Linked DNA regions of Homo sapiens: regions 2, 3, 4, 5, 6 and 7 are each reported to be linked to region 1. Evidence: microRNA targets listed by miRTarBase, many of them from high-throughput screens and not tested one by one. Region 1 holds a microRNA gene; each other region holds the end of a gene's coding sequence.

What was found. The annotated mature microRNA hsa-miR-4318 reads CACUGUGGGUACAUGCU and lies in region 1 at 1,522-1,538, shown strand. An mRNA with a match to its seed (bases 2 to 7 or 8) in the 3' UTR can be bound and repressed. Matches are read on the target gene's strand: a 7mer-m8 pairs with bases 2 to 8, a 7mer-A1 pairs with bases 2 to 7 and ends in A, and an 8mer does both.
Region 2: the mRNA of TXLNG is a reported target of hsa-miR-4318. Seed matches in the 3' UTR shown: 8mer at 1,448-1,455 and 7mer-m8 at 1,914-1,920.
Region 3: miRTarBase lists BRAP as a target of hsa-miR-4318. Seed matches in the 3' UTR shown: 7mer-m8 at 1,052-1,058.
Region 4: miRTarBase lists TRIP13 as a target of hsa-miR-4318. Seed matches in the 3' UTR shown: 7mer-A1 at 1,219-1,225.
Region 5: miRTarBase lists SRP9 as a target of hsa-miR-4318. The part of its 3' UTR that is shown has no 7-base or 8-base seed match.
Region 6: miRTarBase lists FAM163A as a target of hsa-miR-4318. Seed matches in the 3' UTR shown: 7mer-A1 at 2,234-2,240.
Region 7: the mRNA of TAF8 is a reported target of hsa-miR-4318. Seed matches in the 3' UTR shown: 7mer-m8 at 2,921-2,927.

What each region holds. Positions count from the first base shown.
Region 1 is chr18:37,655,668-37,660,398 of GRCh38, forward strand. It overlaps MIR4318 (microRNA 4318), which reads left to right and starts at 1,468; the gene lies at 1,468-1,548.
Region 2 is chrX:16,841,481-16,844,480 of GRCh38, forward strand. It overlaps TXLNG (taxilin gamma), which reads left to right. Exons shown (of 10, transcript NM_018360.3): 10 at 1-3,000. The coding sequence ends at 286. RBBP7 (RB binding protein 7, chromatin remodeling factor) reads right to left here. Exons shown (of 12, transcript NM_002893.4): 12 at 2,861-3,000. Among named protein-coding and RNA genes, the nearest start is that of RBBP7, 27 kb to the right of the region's middle.
Region 3 is chr12:111,640,407-111,645,137 of GRCh38, reverse strand. BRAP (BRCA1 associated protein) reads left to right here. Exons shown (of 12, transcript NM_006768.5): 12 at 576-2,992. The coding sequence ends at 939. Among named protein-coding and RNA genes, the nearest start is that of BRAP, 43 kb to the left of the region's middle.
Region 4 is chr5:916,717-919,716 of GRCh38, forward strand. TRIP13 (thyroid hormone receptor interactor 13) reads left to right here. Exons shown (of 13, transcript NM_004237.4): 13 at 292-1,404. The coding sequence ends at 387. Among named protein-coding and RNA genes, the nearest start is that of TRIP13, 25 kb to the left of the region's middle. RefSeq lists enhancers at 78-647, 2,064-2,607, 2,608-3,000.
Region 5 is chr1:225,788,345-225,792,547 of GRCh38, forward strand. SRP9 (signal recognition particle 9) reads left to right here. Exons shown (of 3, transcript NM_003133.6): 3 at 896-2,120. The coding sequence ends at 1,015. Among named protein-coding and RNA genes, the nearest start is that of SRP9, 13 kb to the left of the region's middle.
Region 6 is chr1:179,812,915-179,817,645 of GRCh38, forward strand. FAM163A (family with sequence similarity 163 member A) reads left to right here. Exons shown (of 5, transcript NM_173509.3): 4 at 162-276; 5 at 865-3,284. The coding sequence starts at 184. The coding sequence ends at 1,275. LOC105371634 (a long non-coding RNA gene) reads right to left here. Exons shown (of 5, transcript XR_007066756.1): 3 at 4,454-4,731; 4 at 1,985-3,613; 5 at 1,381-1,680. Among named protein-coding and RNA genes, the nearest start is that of MIR12116, 11 kb to the left of the region's middle. RefSeq lists a silencer at 180-405.
Region 7 is chr6:42,076,637-42,081,367 of GRCh38, forward strand. TAF8 (TATA-box binding protein associated factor 8) reads left to right here. Exons shown (of 9, transcript NM_138572.3): 8 at 464-603; 9 at 897-4,731. The coding sequence ends at 909. Among named protein-coding and RNA genes, the nearest start is that of TAF8, 28 kb to the left of the region's middle.

The DNA.
Region 1 (4,731 bases):
TCAACTGGACAATTTCTGATGCCTGAGAGTAGGGACCTGCATTTATCTTCTTATTTCTCCCCACAGGGCTGCCCCCAGAGGCTTCCCCTTCTCCTTCTCTCAACTCAGTCCTCCCTGCCTCCAGGGATTACTCAAATACTTTCCCAGGAAGCATCTGTGGGCTAATTCAACACAAGCTCATCTTCCCTGCTTCTGAAGTATGGCATTGGCAGTGTGAACTGATCACACAAAAGCCTGCATTGTTGTCTAATTTGTTCCCTGTGTTTCTTGTCCTTTCTTTGCTTGGGAGCTCTCCTAGGAATTTGCTCTTCCTTTGATCTCTGCCAGATCATCCAGCACAAGGTAGGGCACCTTTTATTTATAAGAAACTTCAATGAACAATCAACAGTACCCTAGGGCATCAAGATCAAAACTGATGATCACCTTTGGAGCCTGACTGGGAGAATTATATTGCTTCTGGCAGCAAGAGAAACCTCTGGATGAGAAGCTAGTTTTAGAGGAAGATGGTAACATTTTCAACACAAGGAGCTTGAGAAGTATGTAGAACATGCAGATGCAGAGTTCTACAACAAGATGGGAGCGGGGCCTGCCGATGCAGGACTCAGCATAGGGTGGAGATCTTCACTCCTATCAACACATATTCACTAAGCATAGCATTGGACCACTCTCAAAACAGTTGGGACCATGTATCAGGCATAAAAACTCTCCTCAGAGAGCAGCTAATCTCTGCAGAAGATGAGACATAGATGTGCTAAATAATAACCTAAGATACTTTAAGTAAAAGTACAAGAAAACAGAAGTGATGTGACTCCCAGTACATAATTAGTTGACATGTGAGAGATACAGTCGTTAAGTCCTATTTATTCCAAAGAAGGAGAAAACATTTTAGGCTGGGGAAATCCAAGTACAAGCTTGTGCTGAATCTTTAGGAATAGGAGAAAGGACGAGAAAATTCCAGATGGGTGTAATTCATTAGCAAAATGGAGAGGTGGGGGTGCGCAAGTCAACTTTGGATATATTCAGAAATCTCACAGATTCCAATCATCTGCAGTATAAGGCCATAGTTATCTATCTATCAAATTTTAACAAACTGTTTCGAAAACTGGTGTGGCGTTAAGGCACAGGTGCCTGGGTTATAAGCCTTTAGTCTGTCTCTACACCTGCTCCACCACTTACTAATGACCTTGAATAAGACACTTAATATTTCCAAGTCTCTATTTCCCATCTGTATGACCAATACCCTGTCTGTGTTAAAGGGCTTTTGTGGAGGTCCAGAGAAAACATCTGTGAAAGTCCCCAAAACGCAGCAGTTAGTGGATGTTGGTTATTATGATTTCCAACTTTCTTTGATACACACAGTGCCTTCTCTATTCTCTGAAGGCCTAAAGCCCCTATTCTTGTATCATACCTTCTTACCTACCTGTACCATCTGTTATTACCTCTTAATTCCTTCATGAGTTTGTAGGAGCTTCTTAATTATGTCATAAACCCACTGTGGACAAGGGCCTTGTCTTAGACAGTCACTGTGGGTACATGCTAGGTGCTCAAAAACTTGTTTCAATGATTGATTTCTATATTCATGAGGATCAAAATAATCCCAAAGGAAACAGATCTTGGGGTTGACATTGACAGATGGGTAAGTAATGACAGGTAATGTTCAAAGGACAGAATGCCTGGTGAGGGCAATGATGTGAGATTGTGGCAGATTTTTATTTTTACTTTTTACTTTTCTGAATGCCTAATTCCCCCAGAACATTCTACCAGGTTTTGAAGTTGTTTATCGCCCTGATACTTTGTGAGAAAATCAAATGAAACAAAAACCAAAGGAGAAAATATCCATCCAACAGCTGGACAGCTCAGTTATTTTTAGGGACGGGAAGAGAAGTCAGTGTTTGGGACTCAGCAAAACATCCCACTCTGTTTGGAGTTGACCAGCCCTTGGAAATGCATGGCTCTAAGCATTTTCTCAGCTGCAACTCTCCAGCACATGTGTATTTGAAGGGAAACTTAATCCATCTTTTTCTGGTTCACTTATACTGAAGTCATCAAAAAAGCTGTTGACATGTCCTTTGCATGGCCCTGTTCTCTGTGAGTTTTCAGGAAATACCAACATAATCTTGAGGTCTTTTTGGTATCCCAGGGTTCTTGGGTTTTGTCTTCACTGGGAACACAGGGAGAGTGGAGAATGCTTTGAACTAAAGTCATTCCAAATTTGCAAAGCTCTGCTCTTCCCTCCAGGAGTCTCAGTGGCTCCCAGAGTCTGAAAATCTTGGAAAAAGAACAAAGTTAGAAGCATCTTCGAGATCTTAGATCTCCTGTCCTTGTTCCTAGCAGAGACTGAGGGATGGCCCAGGAGAGGGAGAAAGTGTTTCAGAGGCAATTTGGCCAGGAGACTAAGTTCAGGACAAAGAGAGTTTTGATTCCAGACAGTGTGACCTTGAGCAAAAGCAGTTCTTTTTTTTAATTCTTCAATTCCCCCAAATGTGGTAGGAGAGCGATATTGCAATTCTTGATCTCCTAGATATGGCTTGTGTGGTTAATGTGTGGTTTGTGACTTTAAGAAACAAAAATATCACAGTAAGAAATTATTGTTTTCCAGATACACAGATGGAAGTCCTGATCCTTTTGGTGATGTGTCTTCTGGGTATCCCATCTCTAGCACTGGGTGTGGACAATACTGAATTGAGCTTACTTTTTAGGCTTAGTGAGAGGTCCAGCTTGGGTGTGTAGCCCAAGCCCTGAGTGATATTAACTGATCCATAAAGGGAATGAGTGTTTCATAGCTGAGTCCCCTAGCCTCTCAGCTCAGGATGCACATTTGGGCAGGCATGGAAGGAGATTTGTGTCCCGTCCTGCATAGACATAGCTAATACCTCAATAGAGGAGAAAAATGTGTACACTCTCCCTAAAATTAAAAGCTGAGAAGGAACTTGGGAACTCACCACCTCATTTTTATTTTAAATATGGGGAAAATTAGACTGCAAGAGGTAAGATAATGTGCTTATCACTTACTGAATATTGATTTTGTGCCAGCCCTATGCCTAAGTGTGATCATATTTAGCAGCACTGGATGGATGATATTATTACCCTCATTTTGCAGATGAAGCAACTGGGGTGCAAAAGAGGGTGATAGCTGGTTCAAAGTCACTCAATGAGCATGTTGTGAACTAGAATTTGAATTCAGCTCTGCCATACTTCAAAGATCAACTGACATACAGAGCTAGCTAGTGAGGGACCAGAACACACAGAGTCCTGGATGTCTCAGCCAGGGAGTATTTCAAGATGTAGACATTGGGTTGTACCTGCAGCACGTATACTCTTTTATCTACAGCACCTGCCACTGTCTGGTCCACCATCAAGTTAGCTGCCTGGGGAAGAAACCTCCACTGCAGAGGTAGAGAGGGTGATGAGAGGCTTTGAGAGGTGGAGGTGGAGCTGAATCTCCCATCTTAGGGAAATGTGCAGGGGTAGCCCCTGTGGGTAGTCTTCCAAGACTCCAACATGCCCATCATGGGAGAGCAAGTAAGCTGAGGTTTAGAAGCCAGCAGACAGTAATGGTAAGTGAATTCAAGGAAGAACCACCCCAGTACCATATCTGTAAAAGATATTTGTCACTTTCCATCTTGGTATCTACCCTTTTTTGTCATAACATACTAAAGAGTGGGGGAGTAGGAGGTATCCTAAGAGTAACAGAGCTCCCTCTCTCATCTCTTTGTCCTTTGAGCCATGGCCTGGCCAATGCTGGGGAGGGGAGGAAATGACACTTATATTGGATATACCATGGAGTTCTAAGTAAGCCTCCATTCATTTGTACTTTTTAGTATTTGGAAGTGATTAGACAGCAATGAGATGTGCGTAGGTCATCATTAAGGATGGAAAAGGGAATTTAACAGGACCTGTTTGAAAACAGGGATTGGAGAAAAAGCAAATCATTTCATGTCTGTGCCCTGTGAGTTCTGGATGCTTAATGGACAGATTATCTTTCTGTTTTTCAATCCATCTGTCATATGGAGGGAATATAAAAATGGAACGTGTCCTTAGATAAGATTCTTCTCTTCCTCCTCTCCTCTTGAGCACATTTTGCTTGTGTCTGCACTCTCTGGTTTTGGCCAGAAGAAAAAGCCCAAGACACTAAGACATTGCCACATTGGCTATTATTTCCAGATGAACTACTCAGTACCAGAATGGCTAGACATGGAGGAAGTGGAAGAGAGAGAGAGGAAGAGAGGGAGGGAGACTGTCCTCACAAATGTCAGGGAGAGAAAGGGACAAGACAGAGTATGAGGGACAGAGGGAGTGGGAAGTGCTGCAAAGGGAAGAGAAGGTGGGGGTGGGGGGAAAGAGCCTGGAGAGAGGAAGGCAGTGGGGGAGGGAGGGAGGAGGGCAGAGTGAAAAGAGTGAAAGGGTGAGAAGGGGGTTTTGGGGTCAGAGCCAGAGCAGCTTCCTGCCAGGCCTGCTGCCCAGCAAGCTGCTGGAACATCTGCATCCTGGTGGGGGTGTTTCCAAATGGAGCTGCCTCTTCCTCTGACTTCTTCCATATGCATCTGTGTGCCTGCCCAGTTAGGCCTTTCCCAAAGTGCTTGCTTTCCCCTTACTAATCAGCCACTTGTGCCCAAACAGCTAACTCAGCTCTGGACATGGTCAATCCTGGGTTCAGCCAGGAGAAGAAGCGTTGCTATTGGGCATCACAACTCCAGGCTCAGGAGGAGCAGACAGCTGTACTAATGCTCC
Region 2 (3,000 bases), not on the chromosome of region 1:
AGAGAAGCTGTGCAGGGCTCTTCAGACAGAAAGGAATGAGCTCAATGAGAAGGTGGAAGTCCTGAAAGAGCAGGTATCCATCAAAGCGGCCATCAAAGCGGCGAACAGGGATTTAGCAACACCTGTGATGCAGCCCTGTACTGCCCTGGATTCTCACAAGGAGCTGAACACTTCCTCGAAAAGAGCCCTGGGAGCGCACCTGGAGGCTGAGCCCAAGAGTCAGAGAAGCGCTGTGCAAAAGCCCCCGTCCACAGGCTCTGCTCCGGCCATCGAGTCGGTTGACTAAGATGAGGTGTGATCACTGTATTGAGAGATATATTTTGTGTATAACTTTCTCTGTTAGTAGTTAACTATTGGTTTTGTGGTGAAAATTTTCTTACTTTTTCTACCATATCTGTATTTTCTTAGAACTACTGGACTTATGTGGTACAGGAGGCTGCTTAGCAGTTTTGAATAGTTTAATCTATAAATTTTCCTCAGCTGTGTTGCACATCAGCCTCGTTCTCCCTCCACTGGAATGCATGTGTTCATTGCCTTGTCCTTTCTCTCCCTGCTCCTTGCACATTATCATCCTAATGAAAATTTCACTGACAGGGCCGACCATTACAAGGGAACTTTGTTCTGACGATGGTTCCTTGATGTGAAAACAATATTAATTTAAACGTCTTAGCCCCCCCCCCCATAATATTATTCAGAAAAACAAAATACCAAGGCGATTAGTTTTGTCTAATAACCCATTTAAATGCCAAGTAAAAATAAAACTCCTAGTGTTGGGTCAGAAGCATATTTGATTGAAATTAGCTTTTTGAAAACATTTATATCTCGGGACAAATTGAGATGGCCACATGCCTAGAATCCTAAGTTTCGGCAGAATATGTATATAAAGATGTCACTTGTGGACAAAATAGTACATAGAGGCAAATCACTAGACAAATAAGCTTAGTGTTTACGTGACTGAACAGTCATCCTGCTTTGGTTTCAGGTGTGGGATTTGGACCATGAGGGGCTCCCGTAGAGGATGGCGGTTTGTGTTTGATTCTGATTTGGGATTTCAGTACATATTCTCCACTTCCCATAGAAGGCCACTTATTCTTTGAAAACTGGTGTTCATGTTTGCCGTTCAATGAAGTCCCTTGTCAAAGACAAGGACGGTCAATTCACGTGTCACTTTCACTAGGCAGAAGTTTCTCCAATACCTTCTGGCTACTTGAAAGTTACTACAAAAATTCCACCAGCAAAGTACTCCAGGTTTTTCAAAAGGGAATTTTCATTATGGATCAGTACCAACCGAAATTGATTTTCATTTCCAAAACAAACACTGGCACCAACATTTTTACTTTGGGAAGACTTGGCAGAGTGTTAGTCATGATCTGTTACTTACGTGTTCAGTCTGTTTTCTCACCCCCTTCTTAGTTACCATCTCTTTTTTAAGAAGAAAAAAGAAAAGCCACAGTATTATCAAGGTCTCTACACTTGGACTGGGGGAAAATTTGAAATTAAGCACATAACTTTTGAATTAGTTCTTTGTTTCAATGTTGAATGTGGCGCAGTTATGCAGATGATTAATCAGGCTGCACTGATGGAAGTTTTGACTTTGTCCCTGGTATAATTTGCATTGAAATGCTTTATGAAATAAAAGGTTCTACTAGAACTGATGTTAGCACATTCCACTGAGCAAAACTATCAGACTGACACTTGTTAAATTGCTTACTGGACTGAATAAACTCTGTTTTGTCCAGTTAAAAGGGTTTTCTCTTTGTTACAAGTGTTATTTGTAAAGTCCTGTCACATTCATGGTCGAAACTGGGTTGAAAGAATTGAAAATTGTCCAACAGATAGATAGATAGGAAACCGCCTGGAGTGGAGGAGGGTTGTATCTAAGCCTCCACTATCAGTCATGTTAATTCAAGGGGCCACAGTGGAGGAAAATAAATCCACAAAGTAGATTATCTAATTACCATCAAAATGAGTCAGAAGCAAAAAACACCACCCTCCAACAGCCTCTTAGGAGTACACCCTGTTCTGCTACTAAAATACTAGACTCATTTCCCTGGTGGTGGGGGGGAATGCAGGTATAGATCAGAAATATAATCCACCTTAAAATTAGTACTAATGATCACATTATTTCACAAGAACTCTGCTGGATGTACAGCTCTTAACATTTTATTAAGCCATTTGTGTAGCCCACCACGTTTCTTTGTGGTGCTTGTCCTGTGTGGAAGATTGTAAATCTTGGGCCTGTTGCATACTTCCAAGGGCTTTAAAGCAATGTGATTAACAGTACTTGGCCTGCTGCTTTTGGCTTACTTTGTATTTTTAGCTAGATGCTATTATAGTGTTGAAAGGATATGGATTCTGTCTGGGATGCATTTGTTGTCCTTTCAGAACCCTTCCTCCCATTACCCTGTGAATAAAAACAAATGGGACCCCCTGAGAAGGACATCTTCCTACAGTGATCACCTCACCAGCCCAGTGTTGTGGCTTTGTAGCGCACCCCGTATCTACCATATTCTAGAACACTGTAATGCTACTAGGCTGGCCCAGAAAAGGTTTAAATGTTGAATTCACTTAAATTGCAATTGTTGCACCATCATGGAATCGTGATGTGTATTATTTATATTGGCGGTGGACTCCAAGGTGTAGAGAAAACTTGGGTCTTGGGTAATATGGACCATTTCATCCTCAGACTTGTTAGGAGTACATTTCTTGGTCTTGAGACCAGTATTTTTCAGTTATGTATGCAACTGCCTTTATTACACCTGGTTATCACAATTCAATTCTCAGGTGTTGCAGAAAAATCTACCTCTTTCAGACTGTAGATGGAAATAACTGTGAAAAAAATGATGCAGATATCTTCTAGTTTGTGCTAAACACACTGCTTTATTTTTACAGCCCACGTCTTTCATGAGGATACGAATTGTTAAGAGGCAGTCTCGTTTTGCTTTTCAAAGACATTTTGTAGAGATTTTTCACTAATGTGAATCTGATTTTATCTACTTG
Region 3 (4,731 bases), not on the chromosome of region 1:
AAGATCACGCCACTGCATTCCAGCCTGGGCAACAGAGTGAGACTCCATCTCAAAAAATAAATAAATAAATAATACACTTGTGGACTGGCGCAGTGCCTCATGCCTGTAATCCCAGTACTTTGGAAGGCCGAGACAGGTGGATCACCTGAGGTTGGGAGTTCAAGACCAGCCTGGCCAACATGCCGAACCCCAATATCTACTCAAAATACAAAAATTAGCCAGGCATAGTGGCAGGTGCCTGTAATCCCAGCTACTTGGGAGGCTGAGGCAGGAGAATCGCTTGAACCCAGGAGGTGGAGGTTGCAGTGAGCTGAGATCGTGCCATTGCATTCCAGCCTGGGCAACAAGAGCGAAACTCCGTCTCAAAAAAAAATACACTTGTGTTAAGTAGAGCAAAATTCTTGCTTTGCATAGCTGATTGCGATGGCAGAAAACCATTCTCCCTCACGATGGGAGAAAGGGGTCTGTCCTAAAGGGATTCTGAGGTCATGGTTTCTCTGTTCAATCCCAGAGCAGAAAGGGGACTGTGTCAGCAAATGAAAAATGTGCTTTTGTCTTCCTTTGTTTTTCAAAAGGTGCACTCAGCTAAACACAAAAGTGGCCAAACTCACCAACGAGCTCAAAGAGGAGCAGGAAATGAACAAGTGTTTGCGAGCCAACCAAGTCCTCCTGCAGAACAAGCTAAAAGAGGAGGAGAGGGTGCTGAAGGAGACCTGTGACCAAAAAGATCTGCAGATCACCGAGATCCAGGAGCAGCTGCGTGACGTCATGTTCTACCTGGAGACACAGCAGAAGATCAACCATCTGCCTGCCGAGACCCGGCAGGAAATCCAGGAGGGACAGATCAACATCGCCATGGCCTCGGCCTCGAGCCCTGCCTCTTCGGGGGGCAGTGGGAAGTTGCCCTCCAGGAAGGGCCGCAGCAAGAGGGGCAAGTGACCTTCAGAGCAACAGACATCCCTGAGACTGTTCTCCCTGACACTGTGAGAGTGTGCTGGGACCTTCAGCTAAATGTGAGGGTGGGCCCTAATAAGTACAAGTGAGGATCAAGCCACAGTTGTTTGGCTCTTTCATTTGCTAGTGTGTGATGTAGTGAATGTAAAGGGTGCTGACTGGAGAGCTGATAGAAAGGCGCTGCGTTCGAAAAGGTCTTAAGAGTTCACTAACCTCACATTCTAATGACCATTTTGCCTTCCTGCTTGGTAGAAGCCCCAACTCTGCTGTGCATTTTTCCATTGTATTTATGGAGTTGGCGTATTTGACATTCAGTTCTGGGGTAGGTTTAAGATGTTAAGTTATTTCTTGTAACCTCAAAGGTAAGGTTATCTAGCACTAAAGCACCAAACCTCTCTGAGGGCATAACAGCTGCTTTAAAGAGAGGTTTCCATTGGCTATTAAGGAGTTATGAAAACTCCCTAGCAATAGTGTCATATCATTATCATCTCCCCCTTCCTCTGGGGAGTGGAAGAATTGCTTGAATGTTATCTGAAAAGAGGCCTGGTAGTAAACCAGGCCCTGGCTCTTTACCAGCAGTCATCTCTTCTTGCTCTGGGGCCAGCCAGGAAAAACAAACAACCCGGGGCACATTGGGTAGACTCAGTGTAGGAAAAATGGTGGCAGCTCCACTGTTTATTTTTGGTGACTTCGTACATCATTATGAACCGCAATTAAGGAGGAGGCTTAATGGCTGTTCCCAAACTCAAATCTCAGAGTGGGTATCCTAGCATCTAGCAAGACTGAGTGGGGAGATTTCTCATCCGTGTGAAAATGTAGAGTGAGGCCTCTGACTAGCTAATTGTGTATTTTGTTGGGTTTAGTATTTTCTAAATGTTTACAAAATATTGGGCTGCATGTTCAGGTTGCAGCTAGAGGGAGCTTGGGCAGATTTTCAATTACGCTTTCAAGATATAACCAAAAGCTGTTTCTAAATCCTAAAATTAGAATTTCAACAGAGCCCCCTTTAGAACAGTCATATAACGCTTGTGTGGGCCAACAGAGGGGCTGTGTACTCTCTCTGGAACCATAAATGTCAAATAATTTATAACCTGCAGTAATTGAGCAAACTTAAAATAAGACCTGTGTTGGAATTTAGTTTCTTGAAGAGGTAGAGGGATAGGTTAGTAAGATGTATTGTTAAACAACAGGTTTTAGTTTTTGCTTTATAATTAGCCACAGGTTTTCAAATGATCACATTTCAGAATAGGTTTTTAGCCTGTAATTAGGCCTCATCCCCTTTGACCTAAATGTCTTACATGTTACTTGTTAGCACATCAACTGTATCACTAATCACCATCTGTTTTTGTGGGATGTGCTGCAGCATTTCCCAAAAAACTTTACGTGTAATGTTGCAAAATGAATGTACTCAGACATTCTTAATTTTTACTTAGGGCAGACCAACTCTTTGAGTCTCTCTTGGACTTATATATACAGATATCTTAAGAGTGGGAATGTAAAGCATAACCTAATTCTCTTTCCTATAGAGATTCTATTTTATTTAAAATCTATTTTTACACTAGTTAGAATCCTGCTGTTTTGGCCAAGTACTTGTCTTGCATGTCTGACCTTGCAGAAGCTGGGGTGGATCATAGCATACTAATGAAGAGAATTAGAAGTAGTTTACAAAGCTCGCTCACTCCTCATTTCTCTGTGATCCCTTCTATCCAGTGGCCCCACCACCACCTGGGAAAACAGATTTTTCAGTACAGGTGGGATAAATGCTCTGAAAGGCTGTGCCCAGAGGAATGAGCAAATAGGCAAGTGTTTCCAAACTACTTGGAGGTTTACAAAAAATATGTCCCAGAAAAAAAAAAAATCTTACCAAGATACGTAAAGAAAAAAAAATTTTTTTTTAAACAGTCAAAGAGTCATGTTTGAATTTCACAAAATCACATCAGACAGAAGTTGTTTTCTTCAGGAGGGAAATGAACCACTTAATATACCCATACTACCTTGAACAATGAAATTGAATTAAAATAGCCAAACTTTGAAATTATTCTGCCCCGTGTGAAATGTGTGTCTCTGACTGACATTTGCTTGGGAGCATGTCTCTAATAATCTAAGAAAGTGTCGGCTGGGCACAGTGGCTCAGCGCCTGTAATCCCAGCACTTTGGGAGGCTGAGACGGGCGGATCATGAGGTCAGGAGATCGAGACCATCCTGGCTAACATGGTGAAACTCCGTCCCCACTAAAAATACAAAAAAAAAAATTAGCTGGGCATGGTGGCAGGCACCTGTAGTTCCAGCTACTTGGGAGGCTGAGGCAGGAGAATGGCATGAACCCGGGAGGCAGAGCTTGCAGTGAGCCGAGATTGCACCACTGCACTTCAGCCTGGGTGACAGAGCGAGACTCCATCTCAAAAAAAAAAAAAAAAAAAAAAAGTGGCCTTGATTTAAAAAGCAACGTAAAAATCAGCCCCTTGGTTGGGTGCGGTGGCTCACATCTGTAATCCCACCACTTTGGGAGGCTGAGGTGGGAGGAATGCTTGAGGTCAGGAGTTCAAGACCAGCCTGGGCAACATGGCCAGACCCAATCTCTACCAAAAAAAATAATAATAATAAAAGTTTTTGATTAGCCGGGCATGGTCTTGCACACCTGTAGTCCCAGCTATTTGGGAGGCTGAGGTGGGAGGATCGCTTGAACCCAGGAGTTCGAGACTGCAGTGAGCTGTGATTATACCACTGTACTCCAGCCTGGGCAACAGACCTTGTCTCAAAAAAAAAAAAAAAAAAAAACCCTCAACAATATAGTGAGCATCTAGATTATTCATCTTTCCACTCCCTTCTTCCAGGTTCCCAAACTAGTGAAAAGTAGCTGAACTGGGCAAGGGAAGTCCTAGGCACACAACTCTTGCAAACTAAAAGCACATTTTTTTATTTTTTATTTTTTTTGAGACAGTCTTGTTCTGTCTCCCAGGCTGGAGTGCAGTGGCTCCACCTTGGCTCACTGCAACCTCCACCCGCTGGGTTCAAGCGATTCTCCTGCCTCAGCCTCCCGAGTAGCTGCGCTTATAGCATGTGCCACCATGCCCAGCTAATTTTTTGTATTTTTAGTAGAGATGGGGTTTTGTCATGTTGGCGAGGCTGGTCTCGAACTCTTGACCTCAAGTGATCCACCCGCCTCAGCCTCCCAAAGTGCTGGGATTACAGTTGTGAGTCACCGCACCCAGCCACTAAAAGCAATTTTTACACCTGAGACTATTTCCCACTAAGCTGAGATTGTTTTGGTGGGGGGGTTTGTTCTTGGTGGGAAACCGTCATAAATGTGACTTGCTAGAATATATTGATCAATATATAAACACTGAAGCAACTACCCACTCTCTGCTTGCATGGCAAAGTTGTCCTCCTCAAAAGGGCTGAGAAACTGATTTCCACAGCCAGCTAGTAGAGTGTGGAGAACTTGGCAAATCACGAATGAACAACCTTCTGTCATCGTTTAGAAACCCCTCTCCTAGTACAGTCAGGCTCCACAAGCTACAAATACCATCCATGAGATTTGGCTGCCATGCATGATGCCACGTTGCTTGGGCTGGTGGCATATTTTGGCTTGTGCGATGCCATGGGCTTATCTAAAAAAGGAAAAAGTCACTCTTATTTTCTCCAGGATAAAGCTGAATTAACTGCTGCATAGTGACTCTGCTGCATCACTTCTCTTGGCAGCAGAAGGGAAATTAAAAGTCTCTTAAGAATCAGCTGCACCTTAACAGTGCTGGGGGTCCTTTAAACTACCCAGAG
Region 4 (3,000 bases), not on the chromosome of region 1:
AGTGTGTGGGTGGCTGCCTTGGTGCTCCCCTGCCCACCCCCGCAGCTGTTTCTGACATTCAGGACATGGCGGGGGCGGGGGTCACGTAGCCACCTTGTTCGCCTTTTCTGAAGTAAAGAGCTTGGCTGATGTGCGTCCTGGACGTGTGTGGTGCGCACTCACTGCTCACCTTATCAGCTACCACCCCCTTCTGTGCTATCTGCACTGTGGGTGGCGGCAGGGGCTGTGGATGCCAGATGGCCCCACCAAACGTGAGTTGAGCCCCTCCAGCAATGACCGTGTACCTTCTAGGCCCCCACCGTCACCATAGAGGGGTTCCTCCAGGCCCTGTCTCTGGCAGTGGACAAGCAGTTTGAAGAGAGAAAGAAGCTTGCAGCTTACATCTGATCCTGGGCTTCCCCATCTGGTGCTTTTCCCATGGAGAACACACAACCAGTAAGTGAGGTTGCCCCACACAGCCGTCTCCCAGGGAATCCCTTCTGCAAACCAAACGTTACTTAGACTGCAAGCTAGAAAGCCACCAAGGCCAGGCTTTGTTAAAAGAAGTGTATTCTATTTATGTTGTTTTAAAATGCATACTGAGAGACAAACATCTTGTCATTTTCACTGTTTGTAAAAGATAATTCAGATTGTTTGTCTCCTTGTGAAGAACCATCGAAACCTGTTTGTTCCCAGCCCACCCCCAGTGGATGGGATGCATAATGCCAGCAAGTTTTGTTTAACAGCAAAAAAGGAAGATTAATGCAGGTGTTATAGAAGCCAGAAGAGAAACTGTGTCACCCTAAAGAAGCATATAATCATAGCATTAAAAATGCACACATTACTCCAGGTGGAAGGTGGCAATTGCTTTCTGATATCAGCTCGTTTGATTTAGTGCAAAAATGTTTTCAAGACTATTTAATGGATGTAAAAAAGCCTATTTCTACATTATACCAACTGAGAAAAAAATGGTCGGTAAAGTGTTCTTTCATAATAAATAATCAGACATGGTCCCATTTGCAGGAAAAGTGCAGACTCTGAGTGTTCCAGGGAAACACATGCTGGACATCCCTTGTAACCCGGTATGGGCGCCCCTGCATTGCTGGGATGTTTCTGCCCACGGTTTTGTTTGTGCAATAACGTTATCACATTTCTAATGAGGATTCACATTAATATAATATAAAATAAATAGGTCAGTTACTGGTCTCTTTCTCCGAATGTTATGTTTTGCTTTTATCTCACAGTAAAATAAATATAATTAATGGTTTGCATGTGAAATTCACTTTTGAAAGAACATGTTACCTTACCTTTTGTTTTAGAAGTTTTCAAGTATTAAAATATTTTTTAGAATTTTCTTGTTTTGATTCTAAGTATCTCTTCCAAGTGCTTTTAATTTTACTAAAAATTACTCACATGATTACTTAACTTTAAGCCTGATTTATGGTGTGGGGACCTTATGGTGTAACTGCATCATCCAGAAGAAATTGGGAAGGTGCCAGTGGCCCAGGTGCAGATTCAGGAGGTAGATCACCAAGGCCAAGGCATATGCAGGTTCTGGTCACCGTGTCGTCTGCTGGGCCTTAACTCTAGATTCAGAACCCGGAGCCACTCCTGCCGTGGAAAGCAGAGCCTGGCTCTGGGGGTGGCAGGTTGAGGAGTGGGCCCAGTCCATGCATGTCAGTGCTGTTAAAGGATCTTTTCACCAGTGGGCACAACCCTAACAGCTCCCCCACCTCCACTCTCCAGGAGTCAGCTTGGGGTCCACAGTGGCTTGCGGCCCTTGTACTCACAAGTTCTTCAAGAAACAATTTGAGCTTTTTAAAACAGTTGGGGGTGGGGTATAGTGAATAAGGCAAAAGACTCATCTGAGAGTAAAGGCAGTGTATTAGGGTTCTCTAGAGGGACAGAACTAATGGAATAGATAGATACATATATAAAGGGGAGTTTATTAAGTATTAACTCACATGATCACAAGGTCCCACAGTAGGCCATCGCAAGCTTCAGCAAGGAGAGCCACTCCGAGTCCCAAAACTGAAGAACTTGGAGTCCGATATTTGAGGGCAGGAAGCATCCAGCACAGGAGAAAGATGTAGGCTGGGAGGTTAGGCCCGTCTCGCCTTTTCACATTGTTCTCCCTGCTTATATTGTAGCCTCACTGGCAGCTGATTAGATGGTGCCCACCCAGGTTAAGGGTGGGTCTGCCTTTACCAGCCCAGTGACTCAAATGTTAATCTCCTTTGACAACACCCTCACAGACACACCCAGGATCAATACTTTGTATCCTTCAATCTGATTAAGTTGACACTCAGTATTAACCATCACAGGCAGACGCATGTCTAGAAGACAAAAGGTACAATATTCTTGCTGCCGAAGAAAAGAAAAAATTGCCAAACCTGAATTGCTGTGAAGGACATAGCTTGGAAGGCATGACAGAAGGTTCCCTGCAGTTATGGAGGATGAGTATGGGTGAGGTGCTGTGGACCCCAGCTCCAGTATCACTGGGCAAGTCTTGACAGGACACCAAGGTCATGGAGGTCAGCCTTGTGGAGCCCATGCTGCACTCAGATGAGATCTGTGGGTCCAAACAGCTCAGGCCATCTGAGTTTGTCCTGTTTGATTTGCTTGTTATATAAAATCAATCAATCAAAAGATAGATGAGTGATAAACGTGCCATTTCATTTACACCACTTCTGAAACCACACTTGAATTCTGGAGGCCGCTGGCTCGTGCGTCTCAGGCAGGCCCACTGGATGTGGTGGGACTCGGCAGTGGCAGGGACTTCTCATGGACTCATTGCAGGTGTCAAGTTCCTGAAAATAAGATACCTGTGGTAGAGAAACCAGGCTGTGTCCTTGAAGTCCCTTCAGGCTATTAACCGAGTGGGAATTCAGGGAATTTCACATGTCAACAGTAGGATGATTGTTGTGTTTAACTGCATGACCTCTGCAAAATGGGGATTAAGAGATCAACTGATAACAAAGTACTTGCCCAAGTTCAGAGACCTACCGCAGCACAACCTTA
Region 5 (4,203 bases), not on the chromosome of region 1:
CACTACACCCCCAACCTGGGCCACAGAGTGAGACACTGTCTCAAAAATACATACCTTCAGCAAATCAAGATTTTTTTTTTTTTTTTTTTTGAGACGGAATCTCACTCTGTCGCCCAGGCTGGAGTGCAGTGGCATGATCTTGGCTCACTGCAGCCCTCACTCCTGGGTTCAAGCGATTCTCCTGCCTCAGCCTCCTAAGTAGCTGGGATTACAGGCACACGCCACCACGCCCAGCTAATTTTTGTATTTTTAGTAGAGACGGGGTTTCACCATATTGGCCAGGCTGGTTTCGAACTGCTGACCTGGTGGTCCGCCTGCCTCGGCCTCCCAGAGTGCTGGGATTACAGGCGTAAGCCACCACGCCTGGCCAAGAAAATCAAGATTTACCTGGTTTATGTGTTGACCAGCTATACACAGAGAATTCTAGATTTTTTTCTAAAAATTATTATCAAACCCCCAATTTCACCAGTAGAAAAAGAGATCTTAAGATTTCTGTGTTTTTTTTTCCAGCATAACTCAGTTACTTATGGCTGGGAGAAAATATGTAGGGAGATAATCTAATACCTAATTCGAAGGAAGAAAATATCTAATTCTAAGTCTTGAGTTCTTCTCATCAGACCATAGCAGGATTTAACATTTAACATTTTTCAGAAGCTTCTAATAGACTTCATTCAGTTTTTTGTCCACAGCAGTGGCATTTAAATTACTGTACTTTAAGACATGGAATTGCTGGAGGCTTGGAAACTTGAGTGCAATTTCCCTAGTACGACCTCCAAGGAGAATAGAGCAAAACAGTGGTAGGAAAAACTCTCAAAATTTTACCCAATTGTATGTTTTCTACATTGTCAGTATCTAGTTTTATATAGTTAATATGTACTTCTAAAATTTCTGACAGTGTTTGGTGTATAAAACAGACCAAGCTCAAGATGTAAAGAAGATTGAGAAATTCCACAGTCAACTAATGCGACTTATGGTAGCCAAGGAAGCCCGCAATGTTACCATGGAAACTGAGTGAATGGTTTGAAATGAAGACTTTGTCGTGTACTTAGGAAGTAAATATCTTTTGAATTAGAGAAAGTGTTGGGACAGAAAGTACTTTATGTAACTAAGTGGGCTGTTCAGAAGCTTAGAGGTCATTTTTTGTAATTTTCTTTTTAATTACTTTAGAGAGCTAGGGATGCAAATGTTTTCAGTTAGAAAGCCTTTATTTACTTTTGGAAATTGAACAAGAAATGCATCTGTCTTAGAAACTGGAGATTATTTGATGTTAGGTAAAACATGTAATTGTTTCTCTGGCAAATTTGTATCAGTAATTTGAAAATGAGATATTAGGAAAAACCAATTCTTCTTAAATTTAGTTCATCTTTCTTTAAAAGAACATTAAATGTAACCATTTTGTCAGATCCATGTATTTTGGAGCATAAAATGTATGCTGTTGTGACCAATAAATATAAAATATGGTAATTGGAATTAACTCCACACCATAGTATGCATTGTTATACATACTGTGTACCTAATTATGTATAGCAGTGTAGTCTCAATTATATCTGAAAGTAATTGTGACTAACAAGTATGCTTTGCCTTATTTCCACATTTAAACTACCTGTTAATATAAGGGATTTGTAGTATCAGCTTGTTGAGCAATGACTTTGAATCTAGTTTTCAGTGATCAGAAGCAGCAGTTATTTGAGTGTATGAATGGAATGATGATCACTGTGCTATAATGTACTGAAACCACCATATTACAGAAATATTTACTACATATTTTCCATCTGTAGTTTCTCAGAAGGGCTATGGATTAGTTTGAACTGTCAAATCCTTGCATACTTCTGTGACACCCCTGCCCATTTTCTGTCTTTAATTAACCAAGGTGTTAGGTGTGACTGTCACAACTGTTATGTTTTCCAGTAAACTAGAAGTACGATATTTGATAATTATATTTGTATTTCACCACCTAAATGTAATGTTGATTCCTCAAGAATGAAATGAAGGCACTACATTGAAATATGTTTTGTATAAATTTGTCATGTTGAACAGCATTTTAGCATGGTAAGTTCCCTTAGCTATATGAATTTTGGCATGTTTCAGAGAGATCAGTAAATAAAATATTAGATAAAATATATATTGTTTGTGTTGAAGTTTTTAACTTTTCAGAAATTGTTGATTTCTGAGCTGGGATATACTATATTCATTTAGTCCAAAATGAGCCTAGTAATGCTGAAAGCAAATTTTTTGTTTCTCAGTACTTTATATTATATGACTTTCTCTGCACTATATGTTAATAGCAAGTTTGTTTTCTTGAATTAGAAAAGTAACATCAAATAGTATAGGATTATTTTGGCTTTTTGTTTTTTTTTCCCCCAGAATTAATGGGATCACCATCAGGGGAGGGGAGAGGCTTGACCTTTTTCCCCCTTATTTAACACTACAGAGATGACCTGAAAAGGAGAGACTGGCATTTGGGTTCTTTGAGTCCTGGTAGCGTGTAACAGAGTGGTTAAGAACAGACATTCCAAGTCAGACTGCCTGGCTTTAAATCCTGGCTCCACTATTTCCTAACTCTGTGGTCTTAGACTAGATACTTTTCTAAGCCTTCATTTTCATCTCTGGAAATGGGGCCAACAATAGTACTTTGCTTGTAAGACTGTTAAGATTAAACATCATGATCCAAGGCTGGGCACAGTGGCTCATGCCTGTAATCCCAGCACTTTGCGAGGCTGAGGTGGGCGGTTCATTTGAGGCCAGGAGTTTGAAACCAGCCTGGCCAACAAGGTGAAACCCCATCTCTGCTACAAATACAAAAATGAGCTGGACACAGTGGCACACTGTTGGGGTGATCAGGCCCAACACCAGGCCATGGGGGCTACAAAGTCCAGCAGGGTCAAAGGAATGAGAAAAGACGAGTGCATAAAGTGGGCCAGGCACGGTAGCTCACGCCCGTAATCCCAGCGCTTTGGGAGGCCGAGGCGGGCGGATCACAAGGTCAGGAGGTTGAGACCATCCTAACACCGTGAAACCCCGTCTCTACTAAAAATACGAAAAAAATTAGTTGGGTGTGGTGGCGGGCGCCTGTAGACCCAGCTACTTGGGAGGCTGAGGCAGGAGAATGGTGTGAACCCGGGAGGCAGAGCTTGCAGTGAGCAGAGATCGCACCACTGCACTCCAGCCTGGGTGACAGAGTAAGACTGGGCCTCAAAAAAAAAAAAGTGCATAAAGTGGGTCCAGAGGGCCAGTGCCAGATTGGAGGCTGTGAAGGCCCCAAGCTCTGGGAGCCCACACTATTTATTGGTGATCAAACAAAGAAGCAGGTGGTAAGGACGTGAGGGTAAACAGGTGAGGGCGTGAGGATGTGGGGTAGAAAGGTAGTGGTACATAAGCGTAGCTGTGATGGTTTAGCATTTCGTTTGATGTATATAGAATATGCTCTGCTGCTTGAGTTAATGGAGGACATGTTTACAAGTAAGAAGCAAGGAACCAAGTCTGTGCACATTCCAGAGGCTACAAGGGGTCTTAGGCCCTGAGCCCTGGGTTCCATCCAAGCCACAAGGGGTTCTATGCCCTGGGCTTAGATTGTGGTGCGGCAGGGCAGCCTTCCACCCTTTGGCACAGAGCTTGGTGTTCCAAAGGCCACGAGGGGTTTTAGAACCTGGACCCCGGACATCTTTCAAGACTTACATTATGACAGACAAGCCAGTCCTGCCTCAGCTCTTCTACCAACATGTCTCCCTTTCCTTGTTTGCAAAACCGCCATAGTTATCATTGCTTGTTCTTGGCGGTGGCTTTCTCTCCAGAGGCAGCTTCCACATCTGCAGGCTGTATAAAGACAAACAACACAGATTAAAAGCACAATCATTATTGAAATCACAGAGCCTCCAAGTGTCTTGATCGATTTTAGCAGGTTAATAGCTGCTAATCCATCTGCAGCTCCTTCAAGCACTTCACTTCCTGGCATTAGTGTCAGATGTGCCTGAGAGGCTTGAAATACTTGTTCCTTCAGTTTTGCAATATCCAAAGATAAATTTCCAGTATGACCTTTTTGTTTGTTTGTTTGTTTTTTGAGGCGGAGTCTCGCTCTGTCGCCCAGGCTGGAGTGCAGTGGCGCGATCTCGGCTCACTGCAAGCTCCGCCTCCTGGGTTCACGCCATTCTCCTGCCTCAGCCTTCTGAGTAGCTGGGACTACAGGCGCCCGCCACCACGCCCGGC
Region 6 (4,731 bases), not on the chromosome of region 1:
TCGTCCTCAGCCTTCAGGAAACCCCTGGGGCCTGGCCCTCCCGGCACCTGCTGCTCTCAGGCCCCCTGCCCCAGCCTCGGGGCAGTTCCAGGAAGACTCCCCCCGGCCCAGCCCAGGGCTGCAGCCACAGCTGGTCCTCAGCCCTCCGCACATCTTTGCAGAGTTTGATGGGGCGCCGGGCGGATGACAGCGGGAACGGTTGTGATCACTGGCGGAATCCTAGCTACGGTGATCCTCCTCTGCATCATTGCCGTCCTGTGCTACTGCAGGCTCCAGGTCAGTCCCCGGGACCCGTAGCCAGAGGCTGCCAGGCCACCAGCAAACCTCTTTTTCATTATGGGGGCAGAAACTGGAGGCCGACTTCAGGGCCCACAGAGCCCAAAGCTATGGAATGTAGCAGGCGTAAGTCAAGGAGGATGGGAGTTGGGGCTGGTCGGAAGGGAGCTAAGTGCCCCCCAGCCTGCCCACTCAGAGCACACAGAAAGTGTGCTGGAAAGATACGGGGTCATTGGGTTGTGTCTCCTGCACCTCTGAGATTTCAGGAGCATGGGAAGAGCACCATTCTGGGGAGGCTCTGAAAGCTGCCGCCAGCAGCTCCAGCCCTGTCCTCAATATGATGTGTGTGTCCCTGCCCCGCTCAACTACAGCCTGGAGTTACTGCGAGGAGTGGTGGGAGGGGAAAAGGAAAGCAGTACTGGCCTTGCAAAGCTGGGATTAGAAACTTGTGGAGCAGGCCCCTGGGGTTCAGTGCCTGGCACTAGGTTCTCCATGGAGCAGGGGACAGGGGCACCTGTGCACGCTCAAAAATGCATGGGGCGGGGGGAGCATTCACCCTCTCAGGCATCCCTCTGCCCTTCCGCACAGTATTACTGCTGCAAGAAGAGCGGAACCGAGGTTGCAGACGAGGAGGAGGAGCGGGAGCACGACCTTCCCACGCATCCCAGAGGCCCCACCTGCAATGCCTGCAGCTCCCAAGCCCTGGACGGCAGAGGCAGCCTGGCGCCTCTCACCAGCGAGCCCTGCAGCCAGCCCTGTGGGGTGGCCGCGAGCCACTGCACTACCTGCTCCCCATACAGCTCCCCCTTTTACATACGGACGGCTGACATGGTGCCCAATGGGGGTGGAGGCGAGAGGCTCTCCTTTGCTCCCACATACTACAAAGAGGGGGGACCCCCATCCCTCAAATTGGCAGCACCCCAGAGTTACCCGGTGACCTGGCCAGGCTCTGGGCGTGAGGCCTTCACCAATCCAAGGGCTATTAGTACAGACGTGTAAATCCTTCCACCCCGACCCGCACACACACCCACACTGCTGCCCTGGCGGGGGCCATGGGGGTGATGAATGACCCTCCAACAGCCCCACATGGGTTGTTTCTGTTTCTTTGGCTTTTCTCGCTCCGCAGTGGAGGGTTTACTAGGATTTAAGCTTTTGAGTGCATTGAGAACCAAGACAGGGCCTGGCTCCAACTCTGTGGGCCAGAGGTGGGGGACTGCTAGGTCGAGTCTGCAGCTTCGCCAGTTTCTTGGTTGGGACACTCCTCTGGCAGCCCCAGCACCACCACAACCCCTTGCAGTGTGCCCCAGTCCCCTGGATTCGCTGGACTGCAAAAAGGAGCACCAGGGAAAGCTCAGCAAAGGCTCAGGAGGCCTCCCGGGTCCTCGGGAGATGAAGCATCCGTGCCTAGGAAAAGGGGACAGAGGGCAAGGAGAGAAGTGAGAGCTACAATTCCAGCATTGGAGAAGCGAGGGGCGGGGCGTCAACGGCACTGCTTCAGGACGCGCTTGCTGAAACGACTCCAACAGCTAGTTCACAGCCCAGCTTTGTACGTTGGTTACCATAGCTACTGCTGTCACTGTAGCTGCTCCCGTAGGGTCGTTGATTCCTGAACGTATCACATCTCACCTGCCCCCTTCCTCGTGGGACGTGTCAAGTTGACTTTAAAGCCTAAGGTGGCTTGTGGGGACTGCACCAGAAAGTGTCTAACCTTGTGTTCCCCGAAATCCTTTCTCTGACTTAGGAACCAGCGCCCCCTGCTGGAGAAGTTTTTTCATTTTGTTAGCCGACTTCTGGTAGCTTAGCAAAGAGACCAGCTGACTGTCTCTCGGCCCAGCCCACCACGCCGAGTAGCTTGTGTGGATGCAGTCCTGTGAGGGTGTGCATAACCGTTCCCAGGTGTACGCACGCGCGCGCGCGCGCACAGACACACACACACACACACACACACACACACACACACAGTAACCACGGGTAGGCACCAGGGGCTTTGTACATTCAGGAGCTGCAGAGAGGAAAGGTCTCCCATGTACCAGAGAAGGAAAAGTCTGATCCCGAAACAGCTTGAACGAAAGGTGGTTAACACGTGACCAATCCCCATGGCAGACAGCGGGCTGGTGAACAGGAAGAGCACAGAATCTCTGTGGGGCGATGCTGCAGCGGCTGAAACCACGTCAAGTCCCCCAGAGCCCGGCATTCTATGTAAGCATCCACCTGTGACGCCGTGGAGCAGGATCTTCATTCATCTCACCAGAGCAACAGCCCAGTCCTGAGGATGGGAGGGACGTGACTTAGCCTTGGGATTCCACGCTCGCCGCCCTCCCTTGGCCGCCCTACTCCCCAGTTTCCTGGCGATGAGCCATTTATTGTGTCTCACACCAGCCTCATTTCCAACTCCGACTTCCTACTTAGAATGTGGCAGTGGCTTTGTGAGTGAGAATCCTGATGAGTTTTCCAGTGGCCTCTGCAGAAGCTGGCCCCCTTCTAAGGGCATAGCTAACCCCCTTCCCACTCCTGAGTCACTGAATTCGAGGAGGGTGGGGCAGGGAAAGGGCTGGCCCCCCTGCTGAAATCTTGATTCTGCATTTGAGGAAGGTCAGGGTGCCGCTGGGGGAGCAGGGAGCGGGGAGGGAGGAAGAGGGGAATGCACATCTTTTGCGCCACTATTAAGGCACCTGTCACCTTACATCTCAATCTGGAATCAAAGTGCCCTGGGTTGAGAAGCAGACCTGGGCTCTGGTCACACTTTGGTCACTCATTAGCTCTAGGACCAGTCACTAATCTCTGAGACTCCATTTTCTCCAGGGAAACGAGGCTTGCCCAGATAGACTAACAACCCTTTAGTGCTCCAAGAAGTGAGAATTTCCGAAAAAGATCTGCCGGCCCAGAGCACTCCCTCTTGCCCTAATCCTGGCAGGGTCTGGATGTATTTACCCAACTCTGATCTTGCGTGCAGGGATGCTTGCTGATGGATGAAAGACCACAATAAAACAAGATTAGCAGCAAAACAATTTTAATTGTCAGTGAAAAGCAAACATGTTTGTCAGACTCTCCTGTGGAGTCATTTCAAATGGTAACTCTTCTCTTGTACCAGGAAGCAGCTGTAGGTGGGGTAATGGGATCTGTCTCCTGGTGCAGAGGGGCAGCTTATGGCGGCAGCAGCTTCAACAAGCCCGTCCCACGGCCAGCCCTAACTGGGCCAAGTGCAAGCTCCTGATGAGCTGCTGGGCCTGGCAGCGTTCCCCACTTCCTAGTGCCTTGCTCCCCTGGAATTCCACAGCCAATCAACCACAGCAGCCGTGTCCTCCTTGCCAGAAATAACATCATTCGTACGTCCTGCCTTTGTAAAAATCAAGACCCAGTTAACCATCACCCACTTCTTGCCCCTGATTGATGGGGTCCCTGAGTACAAGCGTCCTGTGCAATCCCCTCCCTCCTACCGCTTTCCTAGCTAAGCCCTGCTAGCCCCACAAATCAGAATCTGGGTTTGGGGTGCTGGAGAGATGGTGGGCCCCAGCTCTTCCCCACATAGCCCACGCTGCTCAGGGCACGGTCTCCAACCAGGCTCGAGATTGCCTGCCTGCCCGCTGCAGCCGCAGGGCCCCACCCTGTGGAAAAGGAAGCTTCCCCCACTCAACTGCACTGTCCTTTTCTGCTGTCTAGTCTGTGCTAAGGGACACTACTTGTACACTTTTCAAACGGTGCCCTAAATTGGAAGAGAAGGAGGGGCCAGGAACACAGCCCTCTCCGCCGTCTTTCTCCACCTCCACTTCACCACTCCTGCTCTAGACTTCTTGTCTTGCATCTTTGATAACTTGGAGTCATAACCGAGTGGATGTCGGAATAAATGAGAGATTTGAAGTAGAAATCCCACAGGGTCCTTCGTTCTTCACCGGGGGAAGTGAAGGGGGCTGTTGGTGTGGATTTAAGGGTGAAGCCTCCTCTTCAACACCCAGAGCGTCTGTGTTCCACGCTCTCCCTGCTCCCACGGTAGCAAACCTCCACCTTGTTGCCTGGCATGCCCCCATTGCCTCAGTCAGAGTTCAATCGGCGGAGATTTGCTGTTTGTTGGGAAAGTGGCTGAAGGGCCCTGCTGAGGATAGTGAGTTTCCCTGTGGGGCAACCCAGGCCTCGGCCCCTGCTACCTGCCCTTCCCCTCTTCCCAACCCTGCACACACACCTTCCAGGCTGGTGGTCTTCCTGCCTGTGTAGCTCAGGGTAAAATCACTTCTCTGAAGCCTGAGGAGATCATGTCACATGGCCAGCCCTTTGTTACAGGGGCAGCAAGGGAAGAGAGGGGAATTGGGACCAGATCCCCAGTGCAGCCCAGCAGAGACTACAGAAGTGGAGAGGGATGGAGGGGGACTGGAGAACTGGGAACTAGCTTTGTGTGTAGGAGGGAGAATTCGGGGATGAAGTGAGAACGTCTTTTGTGTGTGTGTGTGTGTGTGTGTGTGT
Region 7 (4,731 bases), not on the chromosome of region 1:
GAGAAATCTGTTCTGACTTAGTCTATCTAGCTTGGCCAGGAGATGCGCTATGCAGATGATGTGTTCTGATCCTGTATCTCCCAGTCATGCAGGGCATCCAGGATCACTTTTCTTCTTCATCTCCCCACCTGGCCGGGCATCCTCCCTGAGGCATCTGAATTTGATTCCTGTCCCTCCCAGGTGTCTGTTCTTTCTAACCCCTGTCCCTGCCTTCTCCAGAGGTTCAAAACTCTGGACTCTGTTGTGTGCTCTCTTGGGTCAAGGCTGTTAGTCTTGCCTTCCCTTCATAGCCAGCCCCTGCCTGGTCCTCGCTTCATCGGGGCAGAGATAGGAATGTTGGAAAGAAGGTGCTTCCCAGGTTCTAATTTCTCAATTAGAGGATGCTAATGGTCATTCCAATTATAGGCATGATCTCTTTCCTTATGCTGTTGATGTTGTGCTTTATTTTGGCTTTTGCTCAAAGGAGGATTCTGGAGCCGAGAAGGAGAACACCTCTGTCCTGCAGCAGAACCCCTCCTTGTCGGGTAGCCGGAATGGGGAGGAGAACATCATCGATAACCCTTATCTGCGGCCGGTGAAGAAGCCCAAGATCCGCAGGAAGAAGTGAGTTGGAGGCTGGGGTCCAGAGAGCCTTCACTGTCCCACCGAGGTGGTCTTCTCTGCTTCTTGGAAGAGTCTCCTCAGTGGGGCGGAGCCTTGGGGAAAGCCACTCTGGTGAGAGGGAATAGTCTCCCTTTTCCTGTCCTTACTTGGCTCCCGTACATAGCTCTTGTTCCTTAGTGGTTGAGTGTCCTGCAGTCTAGGGACCAACCCTCACAGCACTGGAGCAGTTTTCCCCTAGAAGGAGAGCAGACAGGGCCCACACCAGGAGGCTCCATGGTTCCTCTTCTTTCTAGGTCCCTCTCCTGAGCTGAGAAGGAAACCTGGCTTGTACAGGGGCGCAGATTCCACCCTCCCGGGGAGTTAAAGCCACTCAAGGGAAGAAGAGGGTGACCTCCTCATGGCCAAGCCGAGGCTGCAGGGTGTGATCGGACATGATTTTCATGGCAAACCGTCTTATTAAGATGACCTATTTTCACTGGATGTTTGGGTTGAGGAAGATATGAACAGAATAATGAGAATTTTTTTTTTTATTTTGAGATGGAGTCTTACTCTATCACCCAGGCTGGAATGCAGTGGTGTGATCTCAGCTCACTGCAGTCTCAGCAACCCTGGGTCCAAGTGATTCTCCTGCCTTGGCCTCCCGAGTAGCTGGGACTAGAGGCAAGCGCCACCATGCTGGCTAATTTTTGTATTTTGAGTAGAGATAGGGTTTCGCCATGTTGGCCAGGCTGGTCTTGAACTCCTGACCTCAAGTGATCCACCCGCATTGGCCTCCCAAAGAGTTGCGATTACAGGTGTGAGCCACCACGCCCAGCTAATTTTTGTATTTTTAATAGAGATAAGGTTTCGCCATGTTGGCCAGGCTGGTCTTGAACTCCTGACCTCAAGTGATAACCCGCCTCGGCCTCCCAAAGTGCTGAGATTACAGGCGTGAGCCACCGCACCCCACCAGAGACTTTCTTAATCAATCAGGCTATGTGGTGGGGCATAGCAGCAGCCAGTGACTTCGTTCATTATCACAGGATTTGATTCCTTTGAAACTCAAGAGACCAGGGAAAGTGACAGGAAGGAAAGGGCTCTTTGCTGCTGTGCTTATTACAAGGAAGACTGTTTGTCCAGCGTGTATTTCAGGATATCTGGATCCCTTTTATTGACTCACAATTTGTGGCACCACTTTCTCATCCCAGAACTTCATTCTTATTTCTCTCCTCATCTGGCCTCCCAAGTGCTCCGTTGAGCTGATGAAAAGTTCTTTGTACTCCCTCAACGTGTCGGAAACAGGAGGCCACACAGCACAGCTTTGTTTGGGGTGGGCAGGAGTCAGGAGTCTTGAGCAGATGCATCACTGTGAAGAAGAACGACATGTCGGGGCTGCACCTGTCCTCCCGTCGGCATTTGACGAAAGCTCCCTGAAGCGGGGCAGCACTCTCCTCCTGAGAGATTTACCATTTATTGCCCCTGTGAGGAATGTGTGCTTGGGAACTGCCAAGTCTTACCCCTTCTGGAAGAAGAGGTTTTCTCTGACAAGAGCCTAGAGCGTCGGCTCTATTATGCTGGGACTTGACAGAGGAGCCATGGGGTTTAAACAGTAGGAAAGAGGGGCTACGCGCAGTGGCTCACGCCTGTAATCCCAGCACTTCGGGAGGCGAAGGCAGGTGGATCACTTGAGGTCAGGAGTTCGAGACCAGCCTGGCCAACATAGTGAAACCCCGTCTCTACTAAAAATACAAAAATTAGCCGGGTGTGGTTACTCATGCCTGTAATCCCAGCTACTCGGGAGGCTGAGGCAGGAGAATCACTTGAACCTGGGAGGCGGAGGTTGCAGTGAGCCGAGATCGTGCCACTGCACTCCAGCCTGGGTGACAGAGCGAGACTCCATTTCAAAAAAATAAAAAAAGGATAAAGTAAACAATAGGAAAGGATTTGGTGGGGTGAGGGTGGGGTGTTGAGGGCTGGGCCTCATCTTGTATTCTGAAAGCTGAGAAACGGCTGGTCAGCTGGAAGGCTGGTGGATGGGCAGGAGTGAGCCAAGCTGAGGCGTTCTGCAAGAAGCAGGTCTGAGTCTGTCCAACCAATTTGTATCCTGTGGGGAGAACAACTTCATTCTTAACATACCCTACAAACCAGAAAACAAGTTTTTAAGGAAGATGCTGGGCATGCTGATAGCTTTTCTGGTCTCCTAAGGAAGAGTTTTTAAAACTAAATCCAAGGAAGAAAAATGTAACAACACGTGGAAGTGAACACTGGATGAATAAGCTTGTTTCCCAAATTAGAATCCTAACGTCCATATTTAGCTTCATGTATTCCCCTTTGGCTTCCACAGTTCAACTCCTTTTATTTTGAGACAGGGTCTCGCTGTGTCGCCCCAGCTGGAGTATAGTGGCACTACCTCGGCTCACTGCAACCTCCACTCCCCGGGTTCAAGCAATTCTCAGAGTAGCTGGGATTACAGATGCCCGCCACCACATCTGGCTAATTTTTTTTTTTTTTTTTTAGTAGACACGGGATTTTGCTATGTTGCCCAGGCTGGTCTTGAACTCCTGGCCTCAAGTGATCCACCCGCCTTGGCCTTCCAAAGTGTTGAGATTACAGGCGTGAGCCACGGTGCCCAGCCCATCTCTTAGTCTTCCATTCCCTTGGTGAATTTGGAAACTTGAAAAACTTGGGGACTTGACAGCAGGCTCCATGTTCTTCTGGCCTCACTGTACTGTGTAAGGAAAGAGCTGCTTGTCAGGAACGGAAGAGGGGACGCTAGTAAAAAAAAAAAAATTGGATTCCCCAACTGGACTAAATAGGAGTTTTTCAGGTTTGTAGTAACGTGAAACTCTCCTAGATCGAAGCAGTTAGACTGGCCTATGTGGCCTTCTCAGGGTTTGTGATTCAGTTCTTAGCGATTCTTGGCCTGATAAGTTTATGAACACAGCCCCACATTCAAGCCGTGGCCAATCCCAGCTGTTCTCACTGCTCTTGGGAGGTGTTGTCCCAGTCAGTGTTTCTGCAGCTTCCATTTGTTGTTGTTATCCAGTGTAAGCACCTGTTGAATGCAGATGTGCTGAGTTAGAGGTGGGATTTGGAAAAGGGCTGCTATTTCTGCTGTTGAGATTTCAGAGGCTATACTCTTTTTTTTTCTTTTCTTTTTTTTTTTTTTTTGAGACGGCATCTCACTCTTATCGCCCAGGCTGGAGTGCAATGGCGTGATCTCGGCTCACTGCAACCTCCACCTCCTGGGTTCAAGGGATTCTCCTGCCTCAGCCTCCTGAGTAGCTGGGATTACAGGCACCTACCACAATTCTCGGCTAATTTTTTTTGTATTTTTGGTAGAGACGGGGTTTCACCAGGTTGGCCAGGGTGGTCTCGAACACCTGACCTCAGATGATCCACCCACCTCGGCCTCCCAGTGTGGGTGGGATTACAGGCATGAGCCACCGCGCCTGGCCTCAGAGGCTATACTCTTATAATTTTGTTCTGAGGGGAGACAGGGAAAGGGTTAGACAACTTGAAACATTGACCCTGTATAAAAATGCAAAATTCTCAATGTGTATTTATAAATTTCTATTTTTTATAACTTTATGGGACTTCTTAGAGGCCAAAAGTAGTAAACATGCAGATTAAAAATGTTTATGAAAATCTCAATAAAAATTCATAATAAAAACTTTGTAAATAAATAGAACTGTAAGCTTTGAACTTAATTTGTGTTCAAAAGTTAACAGCAATGTGGACAAATAAGTCAGGCTTAGCCCTTGTGTTGGCCTAAGCACACCTGGGAACTTAGTAAAACTTTTATTTTGGAAATTTTCAAATACAAAATTAGAGAGCAAAATATATGAACCCCTGTATATGCCTCATCAAGCTTCCACACTTGTCAGTAGCTTGTTGATTCTGTTTCATCTGTTTCTCCCACTTTTTGTCCTTTATTTTCTTTCCTCCTGGAGTGTGTGTGTGTGTGTGTGTGCGTGTGTGTGCGTGTGAGACAGAGTTTCGCGCTGGAGTGCAATGGTGCAATCTTGGCCCACTGCAACTTCTGCCTCCCGGGTTCAAATGATTCTACTGCCTCAGCTTCCTGAGTAGCTGGGATTATAGGTATCTACCACCACCACCACGCCTGGCTAATTTTTTCTTTTTTTTTTG